Homo sapiens: one gene and its partners. The protein of the gene in region 1 interacts with the protein of each later gene in a biochemical or structural test. Each region holds a gene or a part of one and is shown in the gene's direction. Other genes may lie near its edges. The genes, in order: RIOK1, PNO1, RRP12, BUD23, RPS21 and SLX9.

Evidence for each region.
Region 2: the proteins of RIOK1 (region 1) and PNO1 are reported together in a solved structure, tested with the Homo sapiens proteins (one study listed by BioGRID).
Region 3: the proteins of RIOK1 (region 1) and RRP12 are reported together in a solved structure, tested with the Homo sapiens proteins (one study listed by BioGRID).
Region 4: the proteins of RIOK1 (region 1) and BUD23 are reported together in a solved structure, tested with the Homo sapiens proteins (one study listed by BioGRID).
Region 5: the proteins of RIOK1 (region 1) and RPS21 are reported together in a solved structure, tested with the Homo sapiens proteins (one study listed by BioGRID).
Region 6: the proteins of RIOK1 (region 1) and SLX9 are reported together in a solved structure, tested with the Homo sapiens proteins (one study listed by BioGRID).

The regions. Positions count from the first base shown.
Region 1 is NC_000006.12:7,413,777-7,416,298, forward strand, and holds part of RIOK1 (serine/threonine-protein kinase RIO1), read left to right. Parts: intron 1-461; coding exon 462-614; intron 615-2,522. UniProt on the Homo sapiens protein: Involved in the final steps of cytoplasmic maturation of the 40S ribosomal subunit. Involved in processing of 18S-E pre-rRNA to the mature 18S rRNA. Required for the recycling of NOB1 and PNO1 from the late 40S precursor.
Region 2 is NC_000002.12:68,167,860-68,171,516, forward strand, and holds part of PNO1 (RNA-binding protein PNO1), read left to right. Parts: intron 1-3,657. UniProt on the Homo sapiens protein: Part of the small subunit (SSU) processome, first precursor of the small eukaryotic ribosomal subunit.
Region 3 is NC_000010.11:97,373,686-97,377,342, reverse strand, and holds part of RRP12 (RRP12-like protein), read left to right. Parts: intron 1-3,448; coding exon 3,449-3,513; intron 3,514-3,605; coding exon 3,606-3,657.
Region 4 is NC_000007.14:73,693,573-73,696,287, forward strand, and holds part of BUD23 (18S rRNA (guanine-N(7))-methyltransferase), read left to right. Parts: intron 1-51; coding exon 52-97; intron 98-419; coding exon 420-478; intron 479-2,715.
Region 5 is NC_000020.11:62,385,727-62,389,075, forward strand, and holds RPS21 (small ribosomal subunit protein eS21), read left to right. Parts: upstream 1-1,376; 5' UTR 1,377-1,410; intron 1,411-1,594; 5' UTR 1,595-1,612; coding exon 1,613-1,662; intron 1,663-1,884; coding exon 1,885-1,948; intron 1,949-2,116; coding exon 2,117-2,188; intron 2,189-2,582; coding exon 2,583-2,638; intron 2,639-2,730; coding exon 2,731-2,740; 3' UTR 2,741-2,794; downstream 2,795-3,349. UniProt on the Homo sapiens protein: Component of the small ribosomal subunit. The ribosome is a large ribonucleoprotein complex responsible for the synthesis of proteins in the cell.
Region 6 is NC_000021.9:44,960,489-44,964,145, forward strand, and holds part of SLX9 (ribosome biogenesis protein SLX9 homolog), read left to right. Parts: intron 1-3,657. UniProt on the Homo sapiens protein: May be involved in ribosome biogenesis.

The DNA.
Region 1 (2,522 bases):
AATTTCAGGAAGTAATGAAAATTTCTCTTCTTCACATATTGTTTTCCCTCCCAATTGGATTAGTTTATTGCTAGAAATGTGGTTCACAGGAAAACAGCTGTGAAGTTATCCATATAAATCTTCATTTTCTACCTCTATGTATATTTTGCCTCTTTCCCAATCCCAACTAAATGCTCCTGATTAGCTGAAAGAAGGAGAACAGCTCTGTTGTTGATCTAGGTCACGCAGTAAAGCCCTGGTTCCTTCATTTGAGTATGTTCTGGAGCCTTACTTGGAGTGGCTACTTTCATGTTTCCCTCCTGATGTTCATTCTGGTGTTTTGATGTTTCAGTACAGGATGTTAGTTTTTAACATATATTTGCGAGCCTAAAATCTGAATTCTGGCATTAACACATTTAACAACAACACATAACTTGGTTTGTGTGTTGTTTAGAATAACATGGTTCTTTAATAATTTCAAGGTCCCTGCACTCCTAGAAAATCAAGTGGAGGAAAGGACTTGTTCTGATTCAGAAGATATTGGAAGCTCTGAGTGCTCTGACACAGACTCTGAAGAGCAGGGAGACCATGCCCGCCCCAAGAAACACACCACGGACCCTGACATTGATAAAAAAGTAAGCAATGAAATACCTTCCCCTTTTCTTTAGTGTGGGAGCACAGCCGCTCTTATTTCTCTTTGCTCAAGGATCTAGCTAGATTATGATGGCTGAAAACATTATTGATAAGTACCTCTAATTACAGTTTTAATACCTAAGTGTGAACTTGACTTTTGGTGGTAACATTATCTTGAGATTGGGCTGCTCATCAGAGCACCTTGGGCATTGCCTAGAGAGAGCACGCACTAAATTCAGTACATTTCACATGAAGTACAAGTGATGTTAGAGTTGACCCAGGGTAAATACTGAAGAGCCATTTCAGGGGGATTTATAGCCCAGCTTGATGTTTCTGGAATCTGAAAGACCATATAATAGTCCCCCCATCCATGCTTTCAGTTTCTACTGTTTCAGTTCCCTGCAGTCAGCCTTGGTTTGCAAATATTAAATGGAAAATTCCAGAAGTAAACAATTTATAAGTTTTAAATTGCTCACCGTCCTAAGTAGTGTGATGAAATTCATGCTGTCCTCCTCCATCCTGCCTGGAATGTGAATCATCACGTGGTCCAGCGTCTTCACACTGTCGACACTCCCCACCCGTTAGTCACTTAGTAGCCTTCTTGGCTATCAGTTCAGCTGCTGTGATGTTGTGGTGCTTGTGTGCAAGTAACCCTTACTTTGCTTAATAATGACCGTAAATTACAGGAGTAGTGATGTTGGAATTTCAGGTATGCTTTAGAGAAGCCATAAAATGCTTCCTTTAAGTGGAAAGGTGACCATTCTTGACTTAACAAGGAACTCATGCCTGTAATCCTAGCACTTTGGGAGGCCAAGGAGGGCGGATCACTCCAGACCAGTCTGGGCAATAGAGTGATACCCCGTCTCTATTAAAACATTGGTGATGAGCACCTGTAGTCCCAAATACTTGGGAGGCTAAGGCAAGAGGATCCCTTGAGTCCAGAAGTTTGAGGTTCTAGTGAGCTGATCATGCCACTGCACGCCAGCCTGGGTGACAGAGTGAGATTCTGTCTCAAAAAAATAAATAAAAGGAAAAGAATCATATGCTGAAGTTGCTGGTGAGAATCTTTTATCCGTGACATTGTGGAGAAGGAAAAAGATGTTTGTGCTGGTTTTGCTGTCTCACCCCAAACTGCAAAACTTAGGACCATAGCATGTGATAACTGCTTAGTTAAGATGGAAAAGGCATGAAATTTGTGGGTGAAAGACGTAAACAAAAACATCTTCCAGTTGATGGCACCATGTTGCACCAGAAAGCACTGAGCCTATACGAAGGTTTCAAAGGTTTCAGCAAGGGTTCCCCTGAAATGAGTGCCACCAGGCCATTTACTGTAAGGAATAGTTACACAGATTCAGGAATAGGTTTGGACTAAAAAATAGAAAAATTACCAGAGAGGCTGCATCTGCCAATGAAGAAGCTACTGTCACATGAGTATGATACTGTGGGATATTTGGAGAGAGAGACCACATTCAAATAACTTTTACTATAGTATATTGTTACCATTCTGTTATTAGTTATTATCTCTTACTGTGCCTAATTTATAAATTAAACCTCATCATAGGTACGTATGTATAGGTAGAAGCATAGTATATATAGGGTTTGGCACTATCCACAGTCTTAAGCATCCACTGGGAGTCTTGGAACATATCCCCCATGGATAAGAAGGGACTCTTGTATTTCTTTAATCCCTAGCCATAGACATAGAGACACTGCTGACTGAGTGCTATGTGACTATTATTATTCCATCTTAGTCTAATCCTTTAAACCTTATACAATGTGGGTCCCAAGACTTCTGAGGGACATACTCAGCTGCTAGCATATTTTCTCATATGTCTACTAGAAACACATATTTTGTCTCTTTCCAATGTCTATTTCTGTTAGAATATGGAACTTGTAAAGAAAAGTATTTG
Region 2 (3,657 bases), on another chromosome or scaffold:
TTGCTGTAAGTTGTCATATAATGACTTAATTTTTTTCTCCATCATATTAGACTCTATAGATGTGTCTTTCTTAGAACAATCCTGCACCCACATAAAAGCTGCATTTCCAATTTGAGATTGTCAAGAAAAGAATCACAAGATCTATAAATTTGGAGAGGAAACTTTATTTCTTAGAAAGGGTTGCAGTCTGCAGGGTGGCCATTCTGACAGGCTGGAAAGTATAGCCTTCAGCAGAGACCAAAAGCAGGCACTCTGAAGGAGGAAAGGATGAGACAGGAATTTATGCTGAATGCGTTGGCCAAGTATACTTATTTAACAGGTTATAGGAGGAGCTCTGAATATAAGAGGGGTCCTAATGCTTGTATACCGAGTAAATGTACAACCCCTGGTCGCTTTGGGGTGGAGACTTAACATTTAAAATACCTGACAATTAGATCCTGTATGTTACAAGATGAAATAGGGACAGGGACATGACAACTGAATGCACTGCCTCTGGAAGCTGGTAGTACCAGTCCATGGTCAGTGATCTCTTATCAGGAGATGTTACTGGGATCAGTCTCTTGTCCAATCAAAGCTGTAGTTACTGTTTGTGGAACAGAGTGTGGGAAGAGGGAAGCTGGGGTCAATCTGTATCTAGCTGTTGGTGAGCTGTAATTGTTTTAATATTGTTTATCACAAGGCCAGTGCTTGTTAAGCTGCTAGAGAAAAAAAAATATCCTGTGGCAATTAGAATGTCATTTACTCTTTAAGTGTAGGGTGTATGACTTAACCCTTGCCCAGGTGGTCTTAGGTCTTGTTTACAATTTGATATCTTATTGCCACAGTCTGTTCTGTCTTGCCTGGGCGCCTAGGGGCTTTATTTTTATTTTATAAGATAAAGGGGTATTTGGCAAAACTGCAGGTGTATTCATATCTGCTGTTATAGCTGCAGTGACAGCTTCATGAATTTCCTTTTCTTTTTTTTACAATGGTCCTATGGTATAGTCATTTATCTTGAAGTGGTGGGCAACTGCAACTGCAGGCCTCAGTCAACAGTACCTATCAAGCAATTCAGCTTTTTTCTTTTTTTTTTTTTTTTTTTTTTTTTGAGATGGAGTCTCCCTCTATCGCCAAGGCTGAAGTGCAGTGGTGCAATCTCGGCTCACTGCAACCTCCACCTCCCGGGTTCAATGGATTCTCCTGCCTCAGCCTCCTGAGTAGCTGCAACTATAGGCATTTGCCACCATGCCCAGCTAATTTTTTTGTATTTTTAGTAGAGATGGGGTTTCACCGTGTTAGGCAGGATGGTCTCAATCTCGTGACCTCGCAGTCCACCCGCCTCGGGCTCCCAAAGTGCTGGGATTACAGGTGTGAGCCACTGCGCCTGGCCAGTTCAGCTTTTTCTTGTACTGTCATGACTTTTCTGTGCTGCTTTGGAGCACTCCCAACATCACTAGTGGCACTTTATGTGGGACCCACGTTGGGTGGGTCCTATGGTCCCAAAGCTTACAATATTGCACTAAGATTAAAAATAGGCAAGAACTGCGAGAAATCACTTTCTACTGTGATAGACAGTTTATTGGAGAGTCAAAACTGCTTATGGGAGATAATCAGCATCACATGTGATCAGCATCACATGGCATTCTAAGTGGATACTTGCAACACCTGAGCTCACCACAAGAGCAATAGGTGGTGGCTGTGAAGTTGTCGTACAGTATGCACTACAGTTAATTTTATGGAGTTATGATTTAATACTGCATCTTTGCATTTGTTTCCATTTCTCTTGACTACAAATGGCATCATATATGGCTTGTGTTTGTGTGCGTAAGTTTTAATTTTAACTTTTTATAATAGATTTGTGTATATTTTACGGTAGTAAATAAGATAGACTAGTACCTACATACAGTTTATGCATTCATGACGTAGCTTTTTCTTAATTTTTTTGACATTTCTACGATACTTAGCTCCTCTCTGGGTTTTTTCACATCTCCAAAATATCTTCCAGTATATGTGTTGAAAAAAATTTGTGTGTAACTGGACCTGTGCAGTTCAAACCTATTATTCAAAAGTCAGCTGTATTACATCTTGTTTATCCAGTCACAGTAGATGGACTTTTGGGTTGTTTTCAGTTTGTGGCTATGAGAATAATGTTGCTACTGAATTACTTATATCTTTTGTGTTTTCTTACAAACTGAATTACAGACTACTTGAAATTAAGAGATGTACTATCTCTTGCTTTTGCTGTAGACAGGCTAGTTGGAAATCCACGTTTAACAGTTTATATTAATTATAATAAAGCTGTTAGATGGGCTGTTGTGTACCTATAAAAGTTATTTTTGATGAGTTGCCAATAACCTGGCAAAATACAGTAAGTATAATGTGAGCCAGATAGAAAACTAAAAACAATTGGTTCCAGGTATGTTTAATACAGCAGATGGGAAATGATGTTGCCTCTGTGTCTTGAAGCCTCCATTCCTTTCCAACTATTGCCCCATTACTTTGGTTCTTTGTGCAGCAAAACTACTCCCATCTGTTCTTGTTGTCTTTATTTCCTCATCTGTCATGCTCTGTTTTAAATAATTTTAATCAAAGTTAAACATACACATAGTTTTAAAAAGCCAAATATTGGCCGGGCGTGATGGCTCACACCTGTAATCCCAGCACTTTGGGAGGCCGAGGCGGGCGGATCACAATGTCAGGAGATCGAGACCATCCTGGCTAACACGGTGAAACCCCGTCTCTACTAAAAATACAAAAAAATTAGTCGGGCGTGGTGGTGGGCACCTGTAGTCCCAGTTACTTGGGAGGCTGAGGCAGGAGAATGGCGAGAATCCGAGAGGCGGAGCTTGCAGTGAGCCGAGATTGCGCCACTGCACTCCAGCCTGGGGGACAGAGCAAGACTCCGTCTCAAAAAAAAAAAAAAAAAAAAAAGCCAAAAATTTCTACTGCCTACCTCCATTTCACCCTTTTCAGGGGAACCAATTTCAACTCTTTTAGCTTATCTTAAAAAATTATTTGTCTCTGTATTTCCAGATATTTTGTTCATATACAGCCTCTTATTTTTCAGATTCACTATTGACTTTCTACCATCAAAGATGAAGATTTAGCTGTCTTTCACCCCCTTACTTCCACTGCACACACTCAGCCTTTCTGTCACTCCGATTTATTCTTCTCTGTCCTCCTGATGGTCCCCTTGTGGTTTTTGTTAGATTCGTGTTCAGTATTACCTGAAAACAGAAATCAGTGCTCAGTGTACTTATAGCTGAGCCAGGTGAAATACTGTGACTGCCTTATCTTTCTTTTGCAGCATTGTTTTCACTTGAGGAAGTAACTCTTATGTGTCTATGTCCTTTCTTCATTTTCGTCGTACTAATTCAGTAAGAAGCTATACGTTGTCTGTATCTCCTCTTGATGTATTCGAATGCATCTAATATTTGAGAAATCTCTCCTGGAGATGTTCTGTTCCAAAAACGCCCCCATGCTTTCTGCGTGCATTCTGGCTGCACAGCCATCATCCTGGGTTCCCTGTCCCCTGCCTCTTGGAGTCTCTTTCCCAGAGTTCTGCTTCTTGATATTCCTGCTGCTGATTTAGGCATCAGTTGACTTCGGTCTGCACAGTCAGTTCCATCTCCTCCATCTGCTTTCCACCTTTTTGGACTTTGCTACTGTTATTACTCT
Region 3 (3,657 bases), on another chromosome or scaffold:
GTTTCACCATGTTGGCCAGGCTGGTCTCAAACACCTGACCTCAGAAAATCTACCTGCCTCGGCCTCCCAAAGTGCTGGGAGTACAGGCATGAGCCACCATGGCCAGCCTGTCACACTACTTTTTAATGACAGAGTTATTGTGATAGAAATCATACGTACCGTGGGCTGGGCACAGTGGCTCACACCTGTAATCCTAGCACTCGGGGAGGCCGAGGTGGGTGGATCACCTGAAGTCAGGAGCTTGAGACCAGCCTGGCCAACATGATGAAACCCCATCTCTACTAAAAGTACAAAAATTAGCCAGGCATGGTGGTAGGTGCCTATAATCCCACCTACTCGGGAGGCTGAGGCAGGAGAACGCTTGGACTCTGGGGGGCGGAGGTTGCAGTGAGCCAAGATCGCACCACTTCACTCCAGCCTGGGCAACACAGCGAGACTCTGTCTCAAAAAAAAAAAAAAAAGAAAAGAAAGAAATTGTATGGCCTGCCGAGCTTAAAGTACTGGTCCTTTTGCACAAAAAGTTGGCTGACTCCTGGTCTAGGGCAGTGGTTCTCAACAAGGAGGGTGATTTTGCTGCCTGTAGGACATTCAGCAATGCCTGGAGACATTTTTGGTTGTTACCGTTGGGGGATGGGTGCTCTGGCATCTAGTGGGTAGAGGCCAGGATGCTGCTAAGCACCCTGCAATGCACAGGACGACCTCACACAACAAAGAGTACTAGGCCCAAAATGTCCACATTGTCAAGATTGAGAAACCCTGCTCTAGGGCAGTTTCCTGATTTCACACATGATCTTGTAGAATATACAGGAAGTGCTTAAAGAAGAAAGTAAGGCCAAGCGCAGTGGCTCGTGCCTGTAATCTCAGCACTTTGGGAGGCTGAAGCGGGCAGATCATGAGGTCAGGAGTTCGAGACCAGCCTAAACAACATGGAGAAACCCCGTCTCTACTAAAAATACAAAAATTAGCTGGGCATGGTGGCACGCACCTGTAATCCCAGCTACTTGGGAGGCTGAGGCAGGACAATCGTTTGCACCCAGGAAGCAGAGGTTGCAGTGAGCCGAGATGACACCACTGCACTCCAGCCTGGGAGACAGAGCGAGACTTCATCTCAAAAAAAAAAAAAAAAAAAAGAAAGTAAAAGTCATTCAGTCTTCCCACCCAGAAATTGTTACTACTCAAGTTTTTAATGTATTTTCCTTTGCTTTGTTTGGGTCGGTTTGTTTGTTTGTTTGTTTGTTTTGAGACAGAGTCTTGCTCTGTTGCCCAAGCTGGAGTGCAGTGGTGCGATCTTGGCTCACTGCAACCTCCACCTCCCAGGTTTTCAAGCAATTCTGCCTCAGCCTCCTGAGTAGCTTCGTCTACAGGCGTGTACCATCACCCCTCGCTAATTTTTTTATTTTTAGTAGAGACAAGTTTTCGCCATGTTGGCCAGGCAGGTCTCGGACTCCTGACCTCAAGTGATCCACCCGCCTTGGCCTCCCAAAGTGCTGGGATTACAGGTGTGAGCCACCATGTCTGGCTGCATTTTTTTCTGTGTAAAAATAGTATTGTATTTCTACTCTGTTGGAATTAATGTGCACATATTAGTAACTTAAAGTTTTTCCTGATATTAAAAAGGAAAAATTTGTTCTATTTTCAATAGAAATATATGCCCATCAAAGAAAATACAGATGAACCCCCAAAATGAGGGTCATTACCATCATTAATGTTACCTATAAACCCTGGCATTATTCTTAAGGCTGATGTTATGTATTCCCTTTGTCCTGGTAATACTACACGCAGGTATCTGTCCTGAGAAGATAGACAAGTGCGTACTGATTTATGTTCCTAGCAAAGACGTGCCTGACAGTATTGGCTTATACTGGCAAAAACTGTAACACATCTAGTATCTTTCTCATTAGGGTTCCAGTTAAATTAGTTATGGTAAAGCCCTACTTTTGGCCAGATGCAGCAGCTTACGCCTGTAATCCCAACACTCTGAGAGTCTGAGGCAGAAGGATTGTGTGAGGCCAAGAGTTCAAGAACAGCCTGGGCAACATAGCAAGACCCTGTCTCTATAAAAATTTTTTTTTTTTTTTTTTAGTTAGCCAGGTGTGGTAGGCTCACCTGTAGTTCCAGCTACTTGGGAGACTGAGGAAAGAGGATTTCTTGAGCCCAGAAGTTCAAGGCCAGCCTGGGCAACAGAGTGAGACCTCCGTCTCTACAAAAATATTTTTTAAGTCCCACTTTGGGATATGATGTAGGCATTATAAAGAAAGAAAGAAACCACTAGGTAGGGACAGACAAGTTTAGCAGATGGTGAGTCGAACAGACACGGTTTATATCCCAACTCCGCCGCTCCACAGTTCGTGGCTTGGGGCAGGTTTTGTTTAATTTCCCAGGGTCTGCTCCTCATCTTAAAATGGGCAAGTTTTGTGAGGATTAAATGAAAAAGTCATGTGAAGTGCTCATTACAGACTACCACATAGTACTTGCTCAGTAAATGTTACCAGCTTTATTGTCAAGTAAACAAGGTTACAGAATGCTATATATATAGTATATTCCTCCCTATGGTTTTTTTTTTTTTTTTTTGAGACAGAGTCTCGCTCCGTCACCCAGGCTGTTGTGCAATAGCACGATCTCGGCTCACTGCAAGCTCCACCTCCCGGGTTCACTCCATTCTCCTGCCTCAGCCTCCCGAGTAGCTGGGACTACAGGTGCCTGCCACCACTCCCGGCTAATTTTTTGTATTTTTAGTAGAGACGGGGTTTCACCATGTTAGCCAGGATGGTCTCAATCTCCTGACCTCATGATCTGCCCGCCTCAGCCTCCCAAAGTGCTGGGATTACAGGTGTGAGCCACTGCACCCAGCCCCTGTTTATGTTTTACAAAGTGGGCATGTGGCTGGGTGCAGTGTTGCACACCTGTAATCCCAGCACTTTGGGAGGCCGAGGCACATGGATCGCTCAAACTTAGGAATTCGAGACCAGTCTGGGCAACATGGTGAAACCCTACGTCTACAAAAAGTTAGGTGGGTGTGGTGGCATGCACGCCTGTAGTCTGCTTCTTGGGAGGCTGAGGTAGGAGGATCGCGTGAGCCTGGGAGGTCAAGGCTGCAGTGAGCCCAGATTGCGCCACTGTATTCCAGCCTAGGCCACAAAGTGAGACCCTGTCTCAAACAAAACAAACAAACAAAAAAAATTGGGCATGTGTTTAAAGAAGTATAAAAAAGTAACAAGAAACAGAGGCTATCTCTGGGGGAGTAAGAGTATGGAGAGACGTTTGCTTTCTGTTTATTATAGGTTCATTTGAGTATTTTAGAATGAACAAGTATGATTTAATTCATGGAGATGGGGGGAAGTCACCCATATTCCTGTCCTCATCATTGGGCTTTTGGTTTGGTTTGGTAAATAAGGCTGTTGGCCAGGAGGGTGCTGGGCTCACACTCTGTCCCTCTGTCACACTGCAGCCATGGACCTGGCTCAGGCAGGCAGCACAGTGGAATCTAAGATCTACGACACACTCCAGTGGCAGGTAAGGGTCAGCTGGGGGAGGGCGTGGGGAGAAGCACACAGGGGCACAGGTGGCTGCGTGTCACCTTCCTTTATTGTCCCCTCCTTCTCCAGATGTGGACACTCCTGCCTGGGTTCTGCACAAGGCCTACAGATGTGGCCATCT
Region 4 (2,715 bases), on another chromosome or scaffold:
CCCTGTGGGGCTTTCTCCACCCAACCCTCACTTTGCACTTTCTCCTTTCAGATTCTACCTCTGCTTGTTTTCTGGGCCTTCGACCTTTATACCAGAGGTGAGGGACACTGGGTTTGCAGGCAGGCCTGTGTCTTTTGACTTCCAGGCAGTGGGGCTCAGCCTGCAGAGCCTGCTGGGAGAACACTGGTGGGGAAGCAGGGCCCAGCCCCAGAGTGCAGACCCTGGAGTGCTCACATCCTCTGGAATCTGGAGGCAGAGACCTCTGCTCTGCAGGTCCCAGAAAGGCGTGTCAGTTCCTTCTCGTGGGACTGGACCTCGTCCCTGTCGGAAGGGTCAGGCCTGGGTGCCTGGGCTTCTGGAGTGGGGCAGATGGTTTGAGAACTCTCCAGGGTGACCTGAGTGCACTTTGGTTCCTGCAGGGGCTGAGTGAAAATCAGGATGAAGTTGAACCCAGGGAGTCTGTGTTCACCAATGAGAGGTAAAGCAACTGCTGAAGCCTGCCCCGGCTGCAGCGGGGGCTGCCACATTTGTTAGACATGGACTTTCTCTCTGCCCTCACCCAAGCCTCTCAGGTCACATGCAGCAGGGACACCAAGGTGACGGTAGAAACATCAGGTCCCATTTGGACTGTGCCTGTTTGGGGCTAGGGGTTTGGGGTCCTGGATGTCTGGGTGCAGCCATGCAGCCTGGACTCCCTTTGTGAGCCCACACATGCCCCTTCCCCTTGCCACGCCTGGCAGGCTGTCTCCTTCTTTTCTGATGCTGCCCTCCACCTGCATCTGGGACCCTCTCCCTTGGGTGCTGTGGCTCTCCCTTCCTTCCTGCATCCTCATCTTGACTCTCCTGGGTCACTGCTGTCGGCACACAGACATGCTGCACAATTTCTCCTTTTCTAGAAAAGTTCCTTCCTTAACCCCATAACAACAACTAACCACCCCGTTGTTGCTTCCCTTCATAGCAGAACTCAGACCTGCCTCTTCTTCCCCTCCCACCATTCTCTCAATCCACTTCTCAGGCTGACAATTCTGTCTCATCACAAATTGTTCTTGTCAACTCCACCACCAATTTCCATCAAGCCACATCTGGTCACTTGTGACTTTTTTTCATGTCCTTAATGTGCCTGCTCGGTAGGGTCAAAGACAGCAGTGCGCTCCCTCCTTGACGCTTCCTTCACTTGGCCTTCCACCCACCATCGTGGTTTCCTCAGCCTTCCTGGCTGCTCCTCACTCCACTGCTGCTTCCTCTTCGAGTGCTGGGCCCAGCCTGGATTGGATCCCTTCTCTACCTGTGGTGCTGTAAATGCCAGCCGGAAGGTCCTAATTCCCAAATGTGTATCTTCAGTCTCTTGCCACCTGGGGTTTCCCAATGCCCCCTCAGTGTCTATACCTGGAGTTTCCATGGGTAGTCTCTCTCTGTTACCCAGGCTAGAGTGCAGTGGTGGAATCTTAGCTCACTGCAGCCTCGAACTCCTGGGCTCAAATGATCCTCCTGCCTCAGCCTCCCAAGTAGCTGAGACTACAGGTGCATGCCACCATGCCTGGTTAATTTTTAAAGTTTTTGGTAGAGATGAGGTCTTGCCATGTTGTTCAGGCTGATCTTGAACTCCTGGCCTCAAGCAATCCCCCTGTCTCGGCCTCCCAAAGTTCTGGGATGACTGATGTGAGCCACCATGCCTGGCCATCCTCCATTCTTTTTTTTTTTTGAGATGGAGTCTCACTCTTTCCCCCCAGGCTGGAGTGCGGTGGCTTGATCTCGGCTCACTGCAACCTCTGCCTCCCAGGTTCCAGCGATTCTCTTGCGTCAGCCTCCCGAGTAGCTGGGATTGCAGGCGCCCGCCCAACTAATTTTTTGTGTTTTTAGTAGAGACAGGGTTTCACCATGTTGGCCAGGCTGTTCTCAAACTCCTGACCTCGTGATTCGCCCGCCTCGGCCTCCCAAAGTGCTGGGATTACAGGTGTGAGCCACTGCGCCTGGCCTCATCCTCCATTCTTTACCATTCTTGATCATTCCTGTCTTTCCCTACATTTCACATCTTGTCAGCCTGTCATTGAGCCCTGCTGTCCGTCCCTCAGTGTGTATCCCCGTGCTGACCCTCCCTGCTTCCAACGAGCCTAATCCAGCACTGCCCCTAGCCTGGATTGCTGAACAGCTGCCTGTGTTGTCTCCTTGCCTTTGCAGTCTTTGCCTCTTTCAGATTATTTTCTGCATAGCAGCAAGACTGGTCTTTTTCTTTTTTTCTAAAATGTAAGTTGTATCTTGTCATTGCTCTTTTAGTGCCTTCATTGCAGTTGTGCTCCCCGCTCATGTTGATTTTCCTTAACACCCTTCACTGCTCTAAGTCATACACATACCAGTTGACTTGGTTATTATTTGTATCTCCAGCTAGAGTGAAAACTTGGTGAGGACTGGTATTATATCCCTGACATTAAAAATAGTGTCTTGTTAGTAAAAAGTGCTCAGTATTTTTCTGAATGAATAATTGATTATAAGGTAGTGAAGAGGGAGGTTATATCTGAGGTCCAGTTGACATGAGGGAAAGGTCTTAAGACCTTTAAGACATTTAAGAGGAAAAATGAGCCCAAAATGCATGTGTTTGGAAGGCCCACAGCTGGGCACAGCCATGCATGTTCCTCACGTCCACCATAGGTTTATGCTGCCTGACCCCTTGGGTCTTTGCTCATTTCCCTTAGTTTCCCTAGTCCATTCCCCATGGGG
Region 5 (3,349 bases), on another chromosome or scaffold:
GATTACTACGCACTGCATGCCGGTATGAAAATATCTCATGTGCCCCATAAATGTACACACCCACTATGTACCCAAAAAATTAAACATAAAAAAACTTTTTTTTTTTGAGACGCAGTCTTGCTCTGTCGCCCAGGCTGGAGTGCAGTGGCGGGATCTCAGCTCACTACAAGCTCCGCCTCCCGGGTTCACGCCATTCTCCTGCCTCAGCCTTCCGAGTAGCTGGGACTACAGGCGCCTGCCACCACGCCCAGCTAATTTTTTGTATTTTTAGTAGAGATGGGGTTTCACCATGTTGGCCAGACGGGTCTCGAACTCCTGACCTCAGGTGATCCACCCACCTCCGCCCAAAGCGCTGGGATTACAGGCCTGAGCCACCGCACCTGGCCACTGAGTCTTAAGTTTTCTGAGGCTAGTTCTACATCCTAGGATCATGTCCCCCGCCCAGAGAAGACCCCAACATAGGCCGCGCTGCTCCCTCCGTCTACCGGTTTGGAGCTTCTCCTGGCAACAGGGTTCAGGCTACTAACAAGGCCTTCCTCAAGACCCCACCCATAACCAACGACCATACTTCGTGGGTCCATCTTTGTAACATCTTTACTTCCTTGGAGCAAATTCCCAGGAATGGGTTTTCGGGGTCCAAGGGTATGCACCTCTAGCACTACGACAAACGCGGCCAACACGCTTCAGGGAAACGGTGCCCCAGTTTGCATTCTGCTTCCCCTGCCCTGCCCTGGGGGTCTGACTGGTGAAACATGGGATGGCAGAGTGGTCGGGTGTTTCAGATTCCACGGTGGGCCGGGGTCTTTTCCTACCCTCGGGAGCCGTCTGAATTTCTCCTCTGCCGAGTTCCTGCGGGTGTCCTTCGCCCACCGGCCCGGGGGAGTGAGTAGCAGGCACCAGGTGAGCAGGCCTCCGCTCGCAGCGGCTACGTGCACGGGCAGGAGCACCGCCCCACGCCCCAGGTGGCCGCAGGGTGAGGGGACCGGAGGGCGGGAGGCGCACAATGGGGGGCACGCCCGTATCTCTAGCCCGGCCGGCAGCGGGCAGCGAGGCTCAGTCCTCGCCCCTTCTCCCAGCTGCTATTCGGGGCTCCCGAGGCGCTCAGAGGGGTCGACTGCGTCCGTGGGGCACAACCCAGGGGCCAGGCTAAGACGCCACACACGGCAACGACCCTCAACGACAACGACCCCCACGACGCCCCGCGCCCCAGGGCCAGCAGGCTGGGGTCCGAGAACCTCCTTGCCGGAAGCGGAAGTGCGTCACGGCGACGGCCGGCAAGCACGCACCGCGCAGACTCGCTGTGGTGGCGTGACCCGGAAGCGCTCGCCGAGGCCCCTCCTTGCCCGCCGATATCTCTGCCGGGTGACTAGCTGCTTCCTTTCTCTCTCGCGCGCGGTGTGGTGGCAGCAGGTGTGGCGCGCGGCGCGGGCTTCGGGCTCAGGGCTGGGGCTGGGGCGGGAGTGGGGGCTTGGACGCGGGGGACGGGGTGCGGGGTGCTGGGTGCGGCTGGGGCCGTGACCCTAGGGGCCGGTTTGCGCCGGGAGCCGGGGCACGGTTCCGGCCGTACTCACGGCGCCGCGCGGTGACTCCCCAGGCGCAGCCCAGCCTCGAAATGCAGAACGACGCCGGCGAGTTCGTGGACCTGTACGTGCCGCGGAAATGGTAAGCGCCCCCCACATGCCTCTCTTCCGTCCTTACCTAACCACCACGTCCCCTCGCCTGCCCTTGTTCCCCCACACCCCTCCCGTCCTTACCTCGTCACGTCCCTAACTTGTCCTGCCCCCGACGTTACTCTTTTCCATTCATATACCCCCAACCTCCCTCGTCCCCTCTTTCATTCTTACCGCCCAAGTCCCCTCTGCTCACTGCGCCCTTTCTCCACAGCTCCGCTAGCAATCGCATCATCGGTGCCAAGGACCACGCATCCATCCAGATGAACGTGGCCGAGGTGAGCTGGGAGCCCGGGAGGCGGGAAGGTTGTGATATATGTGCGGGAAAGGCAGGCTGTCCCATTGTGGAGGAGCCCCTGGGGTGAAGGTACAGGCAGAGGCTGGCTTTGAGGATTGGTGTTTCCCAAACCTGGGGGAGTGGTTTGTGACCCTTCTTCTCTTTCTAGGTTGACAAGGTCACAGGCAGGTTTAATGGCCAGTTTAAAACTTATGCTATCTGCGGGGCCATTCGTAGGATGGTGAGTGTTTCCCTGGGCTTTGCTCATCACTTCGGGACATCGTGGACTTTACCGTGCGCATTGGAGTGTGTGATGGTGCCTGAGTAGATCTGCTGGCAGAGTAGTTTGAGCCAGCTGGACTGGGCTGGCCGCCTGCCGCTTCTTGAGGGTGGAAGAGGGGTGCTCTGAGAAGACACTCAGGCAGCAGACTCTGCCTCTCACTAGGAGGTGCCCCCCCGACCCCGCTCCACCATAGTCAGGCTGCAGGCTGCCCCGGGAGAGGTGGCTCCCCTTCTGCGCCTGTCTCCATTCGCTCAGCGGGGGAGAGACGTGGGCTGGTGGCACAGCTGACCTTCTGCCATCTCAGGCAGCCGGAGTGGAAATATTCTTAGTGTGCTTTTTTTTTTTTCTTAAGGGTGAGTCAGATGATTCCATTCTCCGATTGGCCAAGGCCGATGGCATCGTCTCAAAGTAAGGTTGGGGGCTCACATTTGGGCAGAGTGAGTGGACTAGGACTGCTCCAGAGGCGTGGTCTTAACGTTGTCCTTTTCCCCTGGTTCTAGGAACTTTTGACTGGAGAGAATCACAGATGTGGAATATTTGTCATAAATAAATAATGAAAACCTACCTGTGCAGGTTCATTCTGTGTCTGTAGGCCCAGGGTTGAGGTTTTGCTGTCAGTGGGTGACGGGTGGGGTAGGGTACCCAGTTAGTTGAAAGGAGACAAGCTGTGAAACATATTGCAAAACTGAGGTTTAAAGGACAAATACATTATCCATTTAAAAACAGATATCTAAGACAAAATAACTCAAACATTCTGAGGTCTGATACTTGCTTATGCACACTGACATCCACAACTGCTACCGGTGCGGAAGCAACGCCAGGCCTGGTTCTGTATAGTCACAGCCGAGCTGAACACCTTAGCTCCGACACCTGGATGTGTTCTAGAGAATGACAGGCTGAGACTGTAGTTTGGTTTAACTACTGGCTTTGTTGCAATAATCCTCGAATACCACACAGTGGCAGCTTTTGGCATCATAAAAATGGGACATAACTGAAGGGAAGGCTTCACACATCACAAAGACCGGGTTGGTTAATGACTAAATCTCACTACATGAATACGCAATCTTAAATTACTGTGCTTATCAGCCATTTCTCGCATTCATGTGTAGGAAAAACCAT
Region 6 (3,657 bases), on another chromosome or scaffold:
CGGCTCCTTGTTTGTAAAAATTACCTATTTTTGTTCCCCACCGTGAAATTTTTTATTGTGGAAGTAACCTGTGCTCGTGGAGTTTTTATGGTTCAGAAGTGCCTGCAGTGGTATGTGAAATCCTTCCAGGCCTTGCCCGCGGTGAAAACAGTGTCTGCGCATAGCGGCGTGGGTGTGGGCAGGGCCCCTGGTGTCCCCAGACCCTTTCAGGCCTGTGGCTCCCTCTTTTCTGAGGTCAGCCTTGCCACGTGCTCCCAGCTGCACGTCTCCGCAGGCTGAAAGCCACACTTCCCACTCAGGTTGTTTTGGAGTATCTCCTTATTTTTCGTGATGCTGGATATTTGCCAGTGTTTTTCTAAGATTGTTTCTCGTCAAAATTATTTTGTATTTTTCGGTTATCTTTTTAGTGTGATTCTGCTGACTTTGTGAAATTAATTTGGAATATTTTCTTTTTTATGTTATCTGCTTTATTTTTTCCTTGGAGGTTTTAAAGAAAATGTATGTTTTTCAGAGGTAGGACCTAGAAAACTTTGTCAGTTTCTTTTGTGATTATTAGTTTTATGGTTTCTATCCCTTTTTGGATATTTCTTAGGGAAATGATTCATTCCTCCATTTTCTTTTTCACAGTTCCTAGCATAGCTGTGAAAGTGGATTTGGACGGGCTACTGGACTGTGGCCATTTGGACCCTGATTTTCTAGGCTGTAATTCTTTGATGATGTGTAAATTTTATTCCATGGCACTTGGTCCTTTTTTTTTGTTTTTTCACAACTTGAGTCAATTTTGGCCACTCATAAAATGATCGAATTTGTCTGAGGATGGTGTCTCATGCCTGTAATCCCAGCACTTTGGAAGGTTGAGATGGAAGGATCACCTACGCCCAGGAGTTTCAGACTAGCCTGGGCAATATAGCGAGACCTTGTCTCTACAAAAAATGTAAAAATTAGTCAGATTAGGTGGTGTATGCCTCTGAGCCTCTAGTCCTAGCGACTTAGGAGGCTGAGGTAGGAAGATCGCTTCAACCCAGGAGTTTGAGGCTGCAGTGAACCGTAATTGCACTAGTGCACTCCAGCCTGGGTGACAGAGTGGGTCCTTGTCTCTAAATAATGTTAATGATCAAATTTAGTCAGATCTCAATCTTCATATGTTAGTTGCCTTCTTATTAAATATTCTGTTTTCTTTATCGTTCTTTATTTGTATCTCCACCTTCATTTCTGATTAAATTAAGAAGTTTTGTCTCTTCCATTTAATAATTAATGTATTTAATAACCAATTCTACTCTTTTGTCTTCAAAATTATTTGTTTTTATTTTGATCACTCCCGTTTTAGCTTTCTTTGGGTTTCAGTTACTCTGCTTATCTGTTTGTATATGTTTTGTTCAGGAGTGAAAGGCTGTAAGTTATCTCTAAATACAGCTTTAGCTACATTTCCCAAGTTACTTTTACTTTGTATTTTATTATGAAAAATTTTATTTAGGAAAGTGGGAAGAATTTTATAGGGAATACCCTGTACCCACCACACAGATTTTACAATCTTTATTACATAACCGTTCATCTAGCAGTTTCTGTCCATCTACCAACATGGGTTTTTAAAAATGCGTTTCAAAGTAAATGGCAGACATCAGTACACTCCACCCCAAATAATTCTGCTAGAGTTCATGGTTCTTTTTTTTTCTTTTTCTTTTGAAGATTGTATTTACATAAAATGAAATGCAAATCTAAAGTGTGCCATTCAATGATTGCTGACAAATGTTGTAGACACCTGTGCAGCTGAAATCCTGTTCAGGTTATGGACCATCACCACCATTCCCCGACAGTCACGCACCCCCCCAGTCAATTACCTCTCCCACTGGCCCCAGAGGTAACAACTGCTGTGTCACCCTTTGTCGTCCACAGTTGAGCTTTTCTTGCCTTAGACTCTGTATAAATGGAATCATGTAGGATGCACTCTTTCTGCATCTGGCTGCTTTTGCTCAGCGTAATGGTTTTGAAACCCATCCAGGCTGCATGTAGCAGCAGTCCATGCCTTTTGATTGCTGAGAAGTATTTCATTGTATGAATACACCATTTGTTACTCACTTTCCTGCTGATGGGCACCTGGGCTTTTTTCCATTTTTAGCTACTGTGAATAAGGCTGCTCTGAACATTCTTTACAAGTCTTTTTGTGGACATGTTTTCGTTTCTCTTGGGTAAGTGCTGAGGAATGGAATGCTGGGTCATAGGGTAGGTGTATGTTTAGTTTTATAAGCAGCTGCCAGACGCTTTTCTAGAGTGGTTGTACACTCACACTCCCACCAGAGCCTGTGAGAGTTCTCCTGGCCCTCAGCTTTGCCAACACATGGCCTGCCGTCTCCTCAGCCTCGGCCGTCTGGTAATCATGAAATGGTATCTCACGGTGGTACTCATTTCCGTTGCCACCAAAAGAGCATTTACATGTGCTTACTGTCCATTTGTGTTTCAGCGTCAGTGAAATTCATTTTTCATGAGGCTTTTTGTCTTTTTATTATTGAGCTCTAAGAGTTCTTTGTCCTAGAGTCCAGTCTTTGGTTGGATATGTGTTTTACAGATGTTTTTCCCAGACTGTGACTTGCCTGTTCATTTTCTTTCTTTTTTTTTTTTTTTGAGATAGAGTCTTGCTCTGTCGCCAGGCTGGAGTGCAGTGGTGCGATCTTGGCTCACTGCAAGCAACACCTCCTGGGTTCAAGCGATTCTTCTGCCTCAGCCTTCTGAGTAGCCGGGACTACAGGCACCCGCCACCGTGCCCGGCTAATTTTTTTGTATTTTTAGTAGAGATGGGGTTTCACCGTGTTAGCAGGATGGTCTCGATCTCTTGACCTCGTGATCCGCCCGCCTTGGCCTCCCAAAGTGCTCGGATTACAGGCGTGAGAACTTTTTTTTTTTTTTTAAATAAACGAGAGTTTAATTTTGAGAAGTTTAATTTATATTAGTTATTGTGTGTGTGTATATGTATGTGTGTGTGTCCTATTTAAGAAAACTTTGCCTAATCCCAAGTCATGAAGATATTATTCCTGTTTTCTTCTAAAAACTTTATAGTTTGAGCTTTCATATTGGTTTTTTTTTTCTATCTTGAATTGTTTGTCTATGTGGTGTTAGTGGTTAAGTTCCTTTTTTCCCCCTAATATGGATATTCAGCTGTTCCAGCACCATTTGTTATAAGTACTTTTCTTTCCTTATTGGATTGTTTTGTTGCCTTTGTGAAAAATCAGAAAGTCTCATAAGTGTGGATCTGTTTCTAGGCTGTCTTCTGTTCCATTGATCTATTTGTTGTACCTTAGCAAAAACCAGACTGTCTTGATTACCATAGCTTTAGGATTAATCTGGAAGTCAGATAACATAAGTCCTTTTTGTTGGTTCGTCTGTCTTGAGGTTGTTTTGGATATTCTAAGTCCTTGGCATTTCCATATAAATTATCATTAGCTTGTCTATTTCTTTAAAAACAACAACAAAAACCTAGTGGGGTTATGATTGGGATTTCATTGAATCTATAGATCAGTTCAGAATTACCATCTTAGCAAAGCAGATCTTCAAATTCATGAACATAGTATATCTCACCATTTAAATTTCATCATCAATGTTATTCAGTTTTAGTGTAGAGATCTTACATCTTATAATAAGCTTATTGCTAAGTATTTTATAGTT